2 linked regions of the Homo sapiens genome follow. Each later gene encodes a partner of the first gene's protein in a complex. Each region holds a gene or a part of one and is shown on either strand. Other genes may lie near its edges.

What was found. The genes of interacting proteins can lie anywhere in the genome.
Region 2: the proteins of RBM17 (region 1) and SF3B1 are in contact, whole or in part, in a crystal structure (PDB 2PEH), measured with the Homo sapiens proteins. Residues at the interface, in NP_001139019.1 of Homo sapiens: Leu309, Met312, Val313, Asp319, Asp321, Leu322, Glu325, Thr326, Glu329, Leu372, Arg375, Tyr376, Phe377, Gly378, Gly379, Val382; in NP_036565.2 of Homo sapiens: Arg334, Ser336, Arg337, Trp338, Asp339, Glu340, Thr341, Pro342.

What each region holds. Positions count from the first base shown.
Region 1 is NC_000010.11:6,091,711-6,099,479, reverse strand, and holds part of RBM17 (splicing factor 45), read right to left. Parts: intron 2,433-7,769; 5' UTR 2,415-2,432; coding exon 2,292-2,414; intron 1-2,291. UniProt on the Homo sapiens protein: Splice factor that binds to the single-stranded 3'AG at the exon/intron border and promotes its utilization in the second catalytic step. Involved in the regulation of alternative splicing and the utilization of cryptic splice sites.
Region 2 is NC_000002.12:197,424,757-197,432,525, reverse strand, and holds part of SF3B1 (splicing factor 3B subunit 1), read left to right. Parts: intron 1-7,769. UniProt on the Homo sapiens protein: Component of the 17S U2 SnRNP complex of the spliceosome, a large ribonucleoprotein complex that removes introns from transcribed pre-mRNAs.

The DNA of each region.
Region 1 (7,769 bases):
GGCAGGGGGGTCCTGGAACCAATCCCCTGTGGACACCAAGAAACAACTGTATTTTTTCAAATGGAGATACAAATGAAACCACAGCTTCAAATTTTCTCTACCAAATAAATACCTTTACAGGTTTGGCTAGGCCAATCTAGTATTCTGAGTAACTAAACAGCCTAAGAGAATGCAATCTTCACTTCCCTTAAAAAAAAAAACCCACAAAACTAACTGTACATAGCAATCTCAAAAGTTTTATAAAGTTAGTAGAAATAACTTCACAAGCTACCTCAAGTTTTAAAAATCTATATGAGGCCGGGCACGGTGGCTCACACCTGCATCTTCCCTGCAAAGCAAAAGTTACATGAAATCTACAAAGATTTTATAAATGTACTTTTAAAAAAAATTAAAGAGAAAAACGAGGTTTTGCTAACCCTCCTTACATTTGGAATGAAACCTTGTTTTAAAAAAAACACAAAATACTGGCATCCAAAAAATCTAAATTTGGTAATGATGAATTTTAAAAACACAAAAAAACCTCTCTACAATACTGAACAATCAAATGTAAGCACTTCCATGTAAGTATCTATTGATGTGGTAAAGGGAAAAGAAAAATGAGTAGAACTTTTAAGAAAAAAAACCTGTGTATTGGCCGGACACGGTGGCTCACGCCTGTAATCCCAGCACTTTGGGAGACCAAGGCAGGCGGATCACGAGGTCAGGAAATCGAGACCATCCTGGCTTACAAGGTGAAACACCGCAGGCGCAGTGGTGGGCGCCTGTAGTCCCAGTTACTCAGGAGGCTGAGACAGGAGAATGGCGTGAACCTGGGAGGCGGAGCTTGCAGTGAGCTGAGATCATGCCACTGCGCTCCAGCCTGGGCTACAAAGTGAGACTACGTCTCAAAAAAAAAAAAAAAAAAAAAAAAAAAAAACAAAAAACCTGTGTATTACGGAAATTTTCAAACATGAAATTAGAGATTAATATTAATTCTTAAGTCTCTACTATCCACATCCAGTTTCAACAATTATCAACTCATGGGTAGTTCTGTTCTTCCCTCCCTCCCCTGCCCGGGACTGAATTGTTTAGAAGTAAATCCCAAAAATGACATCATCTTATCGGTAAATATTTCAGTACACATCTCTAAAGTACTTTTTCTCAACTTTAATTACTGCCTCCCCAGCAAGGAGCCTTTGACTAAATTTTCTCCCGCACATGAAATTTTCACACCACAGATACACTGTGCACAACACGAGCAAGGTTTTTTCACCCCCAAAAAGACCAATATTCGCTCTGTTTGGGGGGATATAGCCTCCATTACGAATGCATACTCTAGAACATAAAGATCTCTAAAGTAGTAAACAAACCATAATACCATTCTCATGCCTACATTTTAATGGCAAATATCCAGTCGACAACTAGGTTTTTAATGTTTTACATGTTATTTCAAGGACATTGCCAATACCCAACATGTACACAACAGAAACAAAAGCAATCAGCATCCAGACTACCTATGCCTGACGCCTTCACAATCAACCTGAGCCCTCAATAAGTTGCACGCAGCAGCTTAGGTATTCTGTGGAGCTTCTTCCCAAAGTGCTGCTTCCAAACTACCTCCACCAAACCAGTAGGAATGCTACTTAAAAATTCCCACTCCTGGGGCTCCAGCCTGAACTACAGTTTACCAGAATATCAGGAGTAAGGCTACAAAATTAGCACCTTAAACAAGTTCTCACTCAATCTTAGACCTCCACTACTTAAGTTTGAAAAGCAGTGTCACTGCTGGTTCAGAGTACTGTTTTTTTGTTTGTTTGTTTGTTTGTTTTTGAATCGGAGTCTTGCTCTGTCGCTCAGGCTGGAGCGCAGTGGCGCGATCTCGGCTCACTGCAAGCTCTGCCTCCCGGGTTCACGCCATTCTCCTGCCTCAGCCTCCCGAGTAGCTGGCAGTACAGGTGCCCACCACTGCGCCCGCGGTGTTTCACCTTGTTAGCCAGGATGGTCTGGATCTCCTGACCTCGTGATCTGCCTGCCTTGGCCTCCCAAAATGCTGGGATTACAGGCGTGAGCCACTGCGCCCAGCCCCCGCAGAGTACTGTTTTTCTTCATTCCTACCCCACGAAATGTTCCTATTCCCAGGAGCCAGGAGTAGCAAAGTGGCCTTAAACTCCTCATTCCTCTCCCCCTACAAATGCTTAACACCATTTACCCAATACAAAGGCAGAAGAGCAAGCTGAAACCAAATTCCTTGTCATCCTAATGAGGAACCCACTCTGGAGGCCTCTGCTCTCATGCTCTGGGCTTGTCTTTACCTTTGCCTGAGTGAGAGCTGCCTTCTTCACCTGAAGCTGAGACTGCAGAAGTTTGAAGTTTTTGGACCAGCCTTCTGTTTTTGAGTCACTGGTCTCCACTCCTAGGTCATCGTACAGGGACATCTTTTCTTCAGTTTAATGCTGAAAGGCAAAAGGGGTGGGGATTAAAGAATGCACAATTCAATAAAGGCTTTTCATGTTAAAATAAGTATCATGAAATTTTAGAGGTAAAAGGTCCAGGACCTTTCAGCAACAGAGGCCCAGGCTCCTGGTACCATTAATGTAGGGCTATTCCTGATACATGAAGCTAGACCATGGATTATTTTTAAAATAAGCCTCTAAAATTCATTTTTCCATCTATAAGATCATGCAGTCAAGTGATCCATGAGTGAAATCCTTCAATGCTAGGGCACATAATGAGGTAAGAATTGGAACATTATTAATTACATATATCCAATTTTTAAAAAATTCTATTTATGTCAGTGCCAAAAAGTAGAAGCTTTACAAAAACACCAATTAGCAGGTTGATGTAGCACAATTAGCTACCCTTTTATAAAGAAAAAATTTAAACGTACTCCTAGGGAAAAAAATGACAGAAATGATCTCTTAGATGTGATTTTGTCAATTACAATTATCAAGGGGGGAGTAGACTGGTTACATCTTAAATACTCTGATTTCCTCATATCACACCAAGTGGAAATCTGTCATCTTTAATGATAGTGATTACAAAGAGACAATCAACAATCTGCATGTGAACGAGCAACACACAGCTTCCGTGCAGAACAGAGGAACACGTGGAAACAAAAACCGAGTCAGCAGGCGCAAAGCATGACATGCAATGCAGCATCGGCAGCAGGTCCCATGAAAGCCCAGCACTGCACAGACATGGATGCTGGGGTTTAGGGAATCAATCTGCCCAAGGCCACAGCGGAAGCCCCTTCCAACCCAGCCAGGCCAACTCCAGAGCCCTCGCCAGTGAACCCCAACTGCCACTTTTTAAAAAAAAAATCAACATTCTGAAACCCACCAACATAGCTTACTTCTTCAAATAAGAAATCAATCTCACAGACAGAAAGAGAACTTAATTTAAACAGAAACCCACAAATTGCAAGTAAATGCTTAGCACAGTAGTTCCCAGTTTATGGACAAATAAGTCTGTCAGTTCCCAGGGGGCCCATAAAGCATTTTCCCATGGAAACCGTGTTATTGAAAAGCCTAATTTGCTTGTGTTCTGTGGCTCAGGAGAGGAGGAAAATATTTAACACATACCCTCCTTAGGTCTGATTCGGCAAGCATTTCTCTTGAAGGTACTCTTACTTCTCAGCTCCCCCATTACAGGGATTCTAAGACCCTGCCGCCCCAACACCTTCGCTGATGTTGGTACCACACTGTGTGGAGTGGGGGACGGAGTGCACACCAACTTCTGTTCCCTCAGAAGAACTGCCCTGGTCTTAAGTACAGTAACTCCCTGCCTGAAGTCAGCACCCCAGAAAACTGTCACCACTTTTTAGTTTCTTCCATTCCTTCATACGTGAACCCTCAAATTAACTAAAACCTCTCCATTTTGATTTTTAAATGAAAGGTCCCCGCAAGGCCGTAGAGAAGCAGGGAAAGCAGACTGTCCAGGGGTATTGATGGCCGACTGCTCAAATGAATCACATAAGAATGAAGGGATGGTCAGGCACGGTGGCTCACGCCTGTAATCCCAGCACTTTGGGAGGCATAGGTGGGCGGATCACTTGAGGTCAGGAGTTAAGAGATCAGCCTGGCCAACACGGTGAAAACCTGTCTCTATTAAAAATACAAAAATTAGCTGGGCGTGGTGGTGGGTGCCTGTAATCCCAGCTACTCCGGAGGGTGAGGCATGATAATCGCCTGAACCCGGGAGATGGATGTTGCAGTGAGCCAAGATCACACCACTGCACTCCAGCCTGGGTGACAGATAAAGACTCCGCCAAAAAAAAAAGAAAAGAAAAGAATGAAGGGATGCCGGGATGCAGACAGACTCTCCTCCTGATAGATGTCTTCAGTGCAAAACTGACCTTTTTCAGGAACTTGGGGATGTCTCGTGACAGGCCTGAAGCACTGAGGCCAAATCAAGAAAAAATAATGAACTCCATTCCTTAAGAAATATGGATGAAATATAACCATGTCCTCAAAGTCTTGGAGGGAATCCCCTGATGTCCACTTCAGAGCCTAGTTTAATAACTCTGAACTCCAAGAAAACCTAGATCCAGGTTGTTCTGTTCACTGCTCTATCCCCAGACTAAGATCAATATCCAACCCACAGCTAAATAGGAAATGAGGCCAAACTGCAGTTTATACTCCATTTGCGAAGCCCTCTCAATTAGAAATTTCTGGCCAATAATCACTGGCCAGAAGGAACAACACTGCACCAAACAGCTTTTGAGGCTTTTGTACACTTTTCTTCCAGCTTACCCAGAACTCAAAACTCATTGTTCACATCTAGATACATACCCTTAAATTTTAATCTAAGAAAACTCAAACAGAGCAACAGCACAGAAAAACCATGCTGAGTGTCCAGCTTAGCACTGTGGCTCCCAAACACATTTCTTCAGAAATGACCATGCACCTTTCATCTAACTTAGTTTAATCTTTTGAGCCCTCTTCATCCAACTGGTCAGCAAACCAAAGCCTACTGAACTACAGGTTCTTCTGTTCTTTCTTTATTCTTAAAATGGAAAGGGAATACTAACAGATTCTGAGAAATAAACAATGCGACTTTCTGGGAAATCACAAAGATAAATCAAAATTTGTTTGCAACTCAAACTAAACTCTAGATATTTGCTTTTCTCAATACAGACTATCTCCAGTATGAAAATCTGAAATCCTTCAAAACCTAAAACGTTCCGAGCAACAACATGACCCCAAAGTAGAACATTCCACACCAGGCCGGGTGCGGTGTCTCGCACCTCTAATACCAGCACTTTGGGAGGCTGAGGCGGGTGGATCACGAGGTCAGGAGATCGAGACCATCCTGGCTAACACGGTGAAACCCCGTCTCTACTAAAAATACAGAAACAAAATTAGCCAGGCATGGTGGCGGGCACCTGTAGTCCCAGCTACTCAGGAGGCTGAGGCGGGAGAATGGCGTGAACCCAGAAGGCAGAGCTTGCGGTGAGCCAAGATTGCACCACTGCATTCCAGCCTGTGTGACAGAGTGAGACTCTGTCTCAAAAAAAAAAAAAAAAAAAAAAAATTCCACACTTGACTTCATGTGATGGGTCACAGTCAAAAACAGAGTGAAATCTTTTTGCATGCATAAAATTATTAAAAGTATGACATATATTGCATATTCAGGCTATGTGTAGAAAGTATATATGAAGCATAAATGAATTTTGTGTTTAGACATGGGTCGCATCCTCAAGGTATCTCATTATGTATATGCAGGCATTCTAAAAATCTAAAAATATCCGAAATCTGAAACACTTCTGGTCCCAAGCATTTTGGGTAAGGGATACTCAACCCATTTCTCTTTATAACTTGAGAACTTTACCGAAAGTGTTTATGAATACGTTAGTGCCACCAGAAATGGGTTAACCAAATGCCCATTAAACTTCGAGGGGAAAGATTCACTTATTTATTTTTGCATCTACAATTTCTGTCATATAGCAAGCATTTAATAAGCTTTATTAAAATACTAATAATGGGCCGGCTGCGGTGGCTCATGCCTGTAATCCCAGCACTTTGGGAGACCGAGGCGGGCGGATCACTTGAGGTCAGGAGTTTGAGACCAGCCTGGCCTACGTGGTGAAAACCCATCTCTATTAAAAATATAAAACTAGCCAGGTGTGGTGCTGCACGCCTGTAGTCCTGTCCCAGCTGAGACAAGAGGGTGAGATAGGAGAATTGCTTGAACCCGGGAGGCGGAGGTCGCAGTGAGCCAAGATTGCACCACTGCACTCCAGCCTGGATGATAGAGCGAGACTGTCTCAAAAAAATAAAATAAAAAATAAATAGGCAAAGAGGCAGCACTGGGGAATAAGGGAAGGAAGTAACCCCCAGAGAGGGAGGCAACACTCCTCACCCTCCCCAGAAGAGTCAACTCTGATGAAAAGAGTTCTCTAAACTTTGAGGCTAAAAATCTAGCAGTGTACTAGATCTCAGCTGCCAACAGTTCTTCCATCAATAGATTCAATATTTAGCAAAAATTAAATAGTGAATTAATGAGATTTTATGAGACCACACATCTCCTCTGATTCCATGTCATTTAAGATGGCTGACTGACAATTCCAGTTGATTTGCTGCATTGCGCAAAAGTTTCAGAAATCATCAGGCAGCAAATCTCATGCTCATTTAAAGGTCCTCATTTCTCTTCTCAAACCTGCAAAACGCTTTAAATATTAGAAACTGATGTCATCTTACCAGCACCTGCTAGTTTTCTGTAACATTGAGCTTATAAAATCAAATCTCTGCATCACAGCAAATGCAAAAGTGCTTTCTTCGTTTTTCTCATTTTCACTGAATTTTAAGTTCACAGAATGGGATTAATCATAGTAACATCACACTCTCATCCATTCACACACTTATTACCTGCTTTTGTTTAATTATTATAATGCTGCAAGCACCTGTGAATTCACCACCCAAAACAAGACAGGATCTAGACTAAGAAACCACACTCAACCATACTACTCCCCCAACCCATTCATGTAATTTCCCCGGAATCCTCTTCTCATTATTTCCTTGCTTTCCTCCTTTTATGTTAATTTTATTTACAGTTTTAGTTAATCTATTCCTTAAAAAGTGTGTATTCTTTATTTTCGCTATATTAAGCATTTAATATACAATAGTTTGTTCATTAATTCTCCCCACCGCAACTACTGAAATGTAATAAGTACATTAATAAGACTGCCAAGACCCAAACTTACCCTAATTAACGTTGACATTATTACTTAGACAACATAACACATTTATTTCATTAGGTCTGCTGCCAGGTAACAAAAAGCTGTACTTTGTAACAACTGGATATACCATAAGAAGCCAGGATCAAAAGTAAATACAAATTGCTGGTTTTTATAACTTTAAAATATTTGCTATTTCCTTCCTTTTTGTGGCAACACTTCCCTTTGAGCAACCCACGTTTCATATATGCTACATTTTTTCTTAGGAAACATAACAAACATGGTTCTGCCAGAAGGAAGAATGGTGAGTTTTCAAGATTCCACCCAAGCTGGAAAGTATTTTTTTAAAACATGTGCAACTGGCAGGAAAAAGAACATGGAAGAGTCTTCTCAGAAGCACCCCACCTACTTATCTTTCAAGTGCATCTCAGAAGCCTTTAGTGACTATTGCCCCCACATAAAACTAACCCCCCCCAACTGGTTTCCTCAAGCATACTCAGATCACAGCAACCTTGGCAAGTTATGCTGCCTATTGTTTCACACAGCGGTTTCTTCCTGCAGTGTAAGCCCCCTAAAGGCAGGGGTGTTTCTTATGTTCAGCTTTGTATCTCTAGCT
Region 2 (7,769 bases), on another chromosome or scaffold:
TACCCTGGCCAATGTGGCTTATGCTTTCCAGGATTGAAATATAAAAAGAACTGGAATTACTCAAATCAGATAAAATCTTTTAGATCTTTCCACGTATTATGTCAGGTGTATGGTTATGAATATGCATAATCTTGCCATCCAGCAGTTCTTCAGATACTGCTGACTTTGGCATACAAACAGGGAACACACATTATTCTCTGTTTTGTAAGGGGAAAATGGTTTAACCAAAAATCCTACATATCAGCTTGTTTTGCCACTAATCCTTTGAATTAGATTTTTTGGGACATCACAAAGCTGAAAAAGTTTTTTCCCTAATTCTTTGCTTGATAAATGGCTGGAATAGTTATAGTTTTGTTATTGTGTATCTTGCTGATCTATATATTTTTTCCTGTGTTTATTTTTGAGACCGGGTCTTGCCCTGTTGCCCAGGTTGGAGTGCAGTGGCGTGATCATAGCTCACTTAACCTACAACTGCTGGGCTCAAGTGATCCTCCCATTTCAGCCTCCTGAGTAGCTACAACTACAGGCGTGTGCTACCATGCCTGGCTAATTTTTACAATTTTTTTTTAGAGATGGGGTCTCGCTATGTTACCCAGGCTGATCTCGAACTCCTGGGCTCAAGCAGTCCTGCCTTGGCCTCCCACCGTGCTAGGATTACAGGTGTGAGCCACGATGCCTGGCCTTGAAATTTTTTTTAATAGAATTAATCATTTAGGAATCAATTTATCAGTATTGTTTGTAGTGTTCAGTAAAATGATTTATATTATAGTTAGTTGTCCTATTGGAGTTTTGTTTAATGAAAAAGCTGAGGGTTGGGATTCAGAATATACTTCCTGTTTTTCTGTGATGTCTTTTAGAAGCCTTGTATTTTGGAAATAGTTGTTCACCGGTTATATCTGGCTGAAGGAGAGTAGATATCACTTAGGGACCAGACTGAAAGGTGTAGGTGAGACATTAACATCTGAGGGCAGTATCTGTGTAACATGTAATGAGCAGTGATTAGAACACTGAAAATAATTCAGACGAAAAATGAAAAATAAAAATCAAGGAGGAAGAAGTGCTACAAGTTGGGTTTAGCAGGATCTAAGGCTTAGAAAGAAGAAAAGGGCTGGGCATGGTGTCTCACACCTATAATCCCAGCACTTTGGGAGGCTGAGGTGGGCAGATCACCCAAGGTTAGGAGTTCCAGACCAGCCTGGCCAACGTGGTGAAACCCCCTCTCTACTAAAAGTACAAAAAAATTAACCGGGCATGGTGGCGTGAGCCTGTGATCCCAGCTCCTCGGGAGGCTGTTGCAGGAGAATCGCTTGAACCCAGGAGGCGAAGGTTGCAGTGAGCTGAGATCACGCCACGCCACTGCACTCCAGCCTGGGCGACTGAGTGAAACTCTGTCTCAAAAAAAAAAAAAAAAAAAAAAAAAAGAAGAAAAGGCACAGGAGGGGAAATCAGAGGGACAGAATTGGTGGGGAGCAGTTAAATAGTTTTATCAGATGTGACCTTCTGCTATCAGTGATATGAATTGTTTTTCTCAAGAGCTTGATATGTAGGTCTGAGTTTTAAAATACAGGAGGCCAGGGGTTGCTCACGCATGTAATCCCAGCATTTTGGGAAGTCAAGACAGGAGGATTGCTTGAGACTGCAAACATACAGAAAAGTAGAGAGCGGCTGGCGCTATACTCCAGCCTGGGCAACAGAGCAGGACTCTGTCTCAGAAAAACAAAACAACAGGCCGGGCACAGTGTGTGAAGACAGGTTTTAATAACACTAGGGTAGGCTGGGCACGGTGGCTTACGCCTGTAATCCCAGCACTTTGGGAGGCTGATGTGGATGGATCACCAGAGGTCAGGAGTTTGAGACCAGCTTGATCAACATGGTGAAACCCTATCTCTACTAAAAATAAAAAAATTAGCTGGGTTTGGTGGTGCGTGCCTGTAATCCCACCTGCTTGGGAGCCTCAGGCAGGAGAATCTCTTGAACCAGGAGGTGGAGGTTGCAGTGAGCCGAGATCGTGCCACTGCACTTCAGTTTGGGCAACAGAGTGAGACTTTGTCTCAAAACAAAATAACAAAAAAAACTACCGTGAGTAGTAAAATGAACCCCTCATATACTCATCACCTAGCTTCAACAGTTACAAGCTTAGGCCAGCTTTGTTTAATTTGTACACTGGTCACTTCTACTCTTCCCATTATTTTGAAGCAGATCTTAGACATACCACTTTATCCATAAATATTTCAGTATGTATTTCTGTGTAGGGACTTAAAAAGATAATACCATGATTACACCTAAAATTAAAATAATAAAATATCTAGTCACTGTTCTGTTTTACCCATTCTTTTAAACTTTGTTTTTCAGTTTCAGTCAGGCTTCCAAGAAAACTGATAACATTTTGATTGGTTGGTTTCTCTTATATCTTTTTCATTTCACAGTACATTGTGATTTAATGATTTATCTCTTAAATCTTTTTCAGTTCATAGGTTCCTCCTGTCTCTTTCTTTTTCCTTGCACTTCATTTGTTGCAGAACCTTTGTCCTGTGGTTTCGCACAGTCTGGAGGAATTGGGGAAAGTGGCTGTCTAAACTGGTTCCCTCCTTCCCATTACTGCTGCAATCAAGATGTTAGGGGGCCTACAAGCAATGGAAGCACCCAGAAAATTATTGGCTCTAAGTATGAGCATAGTTCTGAAATCATACTTCAGGTTTAGATTGTGCTAGTCATGGGAAGGAAATTTTTTTTTTTTTTTTTGAGACAGAGTCTTGCTCTGTTGTCCAGGCTGGAGTGCAGTCGCACAATGTCGGCTCACTGCAAGCTCCGCCTCCCGGGTTCAAGCGATACTTCTGCCTCAGCCTCCCGAGTAGCTGGGACTACAGACGCGCGCCATCACACCCAGCTAATTTTTGTATTTTTAGTAGAGATGGGGTTTCACCACATTGGCCAGACTGGTCTCGAACTCCTGACCTCAGGTGATCCATCCACATCGGCCTCCCAAAGTGCTGGGATTACAGGCGTGAGCCACCGTGCCGGCCTGCCTTAGTGTTATTAAAACCTGTCTTGACACAAAAACCTCTAAACAAATGTTTACAGTAGCCTTACTTGTAATCACTGCAAACAGCTCGATGTACTTCAGCTAGAGAATGGATAAACACACTGTAGTACAATGGAATACTACCCAGTAATAAAAAGGCAGAAACTATTGATGTGCACAACAGTGTGGAAATTGGAATATTTAAGGGTTTAAATGGGTTAAAGAGTGCCAGCTTTTGGCAGTTTTGTGTGGCCAATAGGAAGTCCTAGTCTCTTCTTGCTCAGTCACTAGCAGACAGTATCCCTTTTTTCTTTGTCTTCACATCTGAATGTATTGAACTATGAGTCCAAACTGGGAAGGGATTAGGCTGGAACAGGATTTGTTCATTTTGGTCATAATTGAAGTTGGAAGAGATTATTAGCATAGACGTTTCTTTGCCTCAAGTCTTCATTGTTTTTGACCTCTGGTTACTCATTTTGGTATGTTCTCTCATTTTTTATTTTCATAGTTGCCAACCCCCGCCTTTTTTTTTTGAGATGGAGTTTCACTGTGTCGTCCGGGCTGGAGTGCAGTGGCGTGATCTTGGCTCACTGCAACCTCTGCCTCCCAGACTCAAGCGATTCTCTTGTTGCCCAGGCCAGAGTGCAGTGCTGTGATCTCGGCTCACTGCAACCTCCACCTCCCAGGTTCAAGCGATTCTCATGCCTCAGCCTTCCAAGTAGCTGGGATTACAGGCGTGCCACCACCATGTCTGGCTAATTTTTGTATTTTTAGTGAAGACAGGGTTTCACCATGTTGGCCAGGCCGGCTTTGAACTCCTGATCTCAAGTGATTCAACTGTCTTGACTTCCCAAAGTGCTGGGATTACAGGCGTGAGCCACCGCGCTCAGCCAGTTGCCAAGCAGTTTTATGCATTGATCATTTGTTGTCAGAAATGATCTATTTGCATATTTTTAGTCAGTTTATATTTAAGAAATTATAGGAATACTTACACACCAGGCTGTAACTTAGTGTTGGTTTTGAAAATACGGAGTTAGAGACAACATTGTTATTCCCAGAGATAAAAAATTTGAAGTGGAATTTTACAAACCTTGGCTGGCATGGATAGGGGAGAGAAAAATTTGGAAAATTACTTTTAATTACTTCTACAGATTACCTATTTATTTATTTACTTACTTATTTAGAGGCAAGGCCTGGCTCTAACACCCAGGCTAGAGTGCAGTGGTGTGATCTCAGCTCACTGCAACCTCCGCCTCCTGGGCTCAAGCCATCCTCTGACCTCAGCCTCCTGAGTATCTGGGACTACAGGTGTGCACCTGTAGTGACTAATTTTTGTATTTTTGTCTAATTTTTGTAGAGACAGGGTTTCATCATGTTGCTTAGGCTGGCCTTGAACTTGTGAACTCAAGTGATCTGCCTGCCTGGGCATCCCAAAGTGCCCAGCCTCATTACCTTTTAATTAATTAATTAATTAATTAATTAATTTGAGACGGAGTCTTGCTCTGTCGCCTAGGTTGGAGTGCAGTGGTGCGATCTCGGCTCACTGCATCCTCTGCCTCTTGGGTTCAAGCAATTCTCTGACTCAGCCTCCTGAGTAGCTGGGATTCCAGGCACCCACCACCACACCTGGCTAATTTTTATATTTTTAGTAGAGATGGGGTTTCACCATCTTGGCCAGGCTGATCCTGAACTCCTGACCTCGTGATCCACCCGCCTCGGCCTCCCAAAGTGCTGGGATTACAGGCGTGAGCCACCATGCCCGGCCCAGATTACCTTTTATGAAATATTTTAACATGCAGAAGAGAATAGGACAAAATATAATGAACACTAACCCACTGCTCAGCTTTATCAGTTCTTCATTTTCTGCCGTATTTTTTCCCACCTTTTTATTTATTTTGAAAACGAAACCTCAGACACAAAGTTACCTTATTTATGAATGTCATGGTAATAATTTGTTTGCTCATAAATATTTGGGTATGTTATATTTGGTATTTTAGCACATAGTTTATTAAGAAATTTCTGAGTTTTTAGTTCTCTGAATTGCATAATAAGCTGCTGAGTTTTATGGAATCTGACGGCTTAATTTTATGGATCACATGGTGTATGTGTAAATGTGCTGCAGTTTGCAGTGTGTTAACAAAGCCCATTAAGCTGTTTGGACTTTATATCTATAGTTTCCAGCAGACAGAAAACAATGCCTGATTTGCATATAAACATTTAATTGTACTGCCTATAAGAAGTTCAGTAATATACTCACCTTAGGATTAATTAACTACAAACAGCTGCCTAGCCCCAGGAGATTTTGGGCTGGGTAATTTTGTTACTAAATTTTAATAAGAACCTAGTCATGATTTACATAGATTTCATACCAACACTATTTCAGTACTTTATGAACCTTTGTAATTGGAAAACTCTGATGCTAATCAGCAGGTACATAAAATCAATAGTTAAAATTCAGTAGCTGAAATTAGTTCCAGAATAAGTGTTATCCAAATGAGAAACTAGTTGCTGAAACTTCAGGATGGAAAAGTTGTTTAGATGGAAAATAAGAGAGATGCCTGATAAGGGGGAAAAAGCAAGTTGCACAATATGTGTAGTGTGCAGTTTTTATAAAACAGCACCCCTTTCCTGTTTTTTAGTTGTGTATGAGGTAGAGAAAAGTATAAAATGATGCTCTAAATTGGAAAATTTGGTAGGGGTGGGCTGGGGTTGGAAATGGGAGGGGTGAAGGGCCAGGTAAAATAGTTTCCTAGGGTGTTTGTTAATGATGCAGAATCCTGGGCTTCACAGCCTGAGTTGGAGTTTCAGAGTTAGTGTATCCAAGACCTAAGGTTCTACCTTTGTAACAGGTGCACCAGGTCATTTCTTTGTAGGTGGTCCTTATACTAGACTAATGCTGTAGAGGAGATTGCAGACTATTTCTCCTGATTCATCCATTTGTTTCTTACCTAAATCCTCATGGAAGTAGCATTTGTGGTCCTTTTACAAAAACCTATTTAGGTAAAAGTGATAAATGCACCTGTGGTTTAAAAAAAAAGCCTGAAGCTGGGCGTGGTGGTGGGCATCTATAATCCCAACTATTTGGGAGGCTGAGGCAGGAGAATGGCTTGAACCTGGGAGGCGGAGGTTGCAGTGAGCCGAGATCCAGCCACTGCACTCCAGCCTGGGCAACAAGAGCAAAACTCCGCCTCAAAAAAAGAAAAGAAAAGAAGATGCCCGAAGGGGGTGGGAGTGGGGCAAATGTAGATTAAATTTTTCAAAATATGAAACTACAAACAGAAACAAAAGTAGAGATCATAGTAAAAAGAACCACCCTGCTCATGTGAGGATATTTCTGGCTGCCTGGGCTGCTATAATGGTTTGGGGACAAAGTAACATCTGTGCATGTAGTGGTGCTGTGTAACACAACACACTATAATAATTTTGAGATCCGATCACAACTGGGGCTGCTAAACTCAGCATTAAAACTATTCTATCATTTTGAGTTTCTTTCTTTCTGTTTGTTTCTGAGACAGTCTCTCTCTCATCCAGGCTGGAGTGCAGTGGCAGCAATCGTGGCTTACTGCAGCCTTGACCTCCTGGGCTCAAACAGTCCTCCCACCTGAGCCCCCTAAGTGGCAGGGGACTATAGGTTTGCCACCATACCTGGCTAATTTTAGTATTTTTTGTAGAGATAGGGTTTTGCCATGTCGCCCAGGCTGGTTTTGAACTCCTGGGCTCAAGTGATCCGCCCACCTCAGCCTTCCAAAGTGTTTGGATGACATGCGTGAGCTACCGCGTCTGCCTCCAGTTTGTGAGACGTGCTCCTGTTCCTTTCTTATGTGGAAATGTGACCCAGCCGTGCCTTAGACTAGATAAGGACATTTTGTTATCCTGCACATCTATCTTGAGGAACTATAGAGGGCTTTCTCCCTTAGCTGGGGGGGTGGGAGGTTTTGCAAATACAGGATGCTATTTGAATCTTTATCTTTTGATTCATGCAGCTAGCAATTGAGCTTTTTTATTTTTTATTTGATTTATTTATCTATTTATTTTTTGAGACGGAGTTTCGCTCTTGTCGCCCAGGCTGGAGTGCAATGGCGTGATCTCGACTTACTGCAACCTCCACCTTCCGGGTTCATGTGATTCTCCTGCCTCAGCCTCCCGAGTAGCTGGGATTACAGGCGCCTGCCACCATGCCCGGCTAATTTTTGTATTTTTAGTAGAGACGGGGTTTTAGCACATTGGCCAGGCTGGTCTTGAACTCCTGACCTCAGGTGATCTGCCCACCTCGGCCTCCCGAAGTGCTGGGATTGCAGGTGTGAGCCACTGCGCCCGGCCTAATTTTTATTCATTTATTTATTTATTTGAGATGAGTTTTGCTCTTTGCCCAGGCTAAAGTGCAGTGGCACGTGATCTCGGCTCACTGCAGCCTTGGCCTCCCGGGTTCAAGCAGTTCTGCCTCAGCCTCCTGAGTAGCTGGGACTAGAGGCGTGCGCCATTACACCTGGCTAACTTTGTATTTTTACTGGAGAGGAGGTTTCACCATCTTGGCTAGGCTGGTCTCGAATGCCTGACTTCAGGTGATCCGCCCGCCTTGGCCTCCCAAAGTGCTGGGATTATAGGCGTGGACCACCGCGCCCGGCCAGCAAGTAAGCTTTTTAAAAGTGCCTGGTGTCAAAGGGCTTAATTCAGCATGGGCTGGCAAGAATTTAAACAGCTATTTGTCAGGCCATGGAAATCTTTTGCAATCGAAACTATTTCTTTA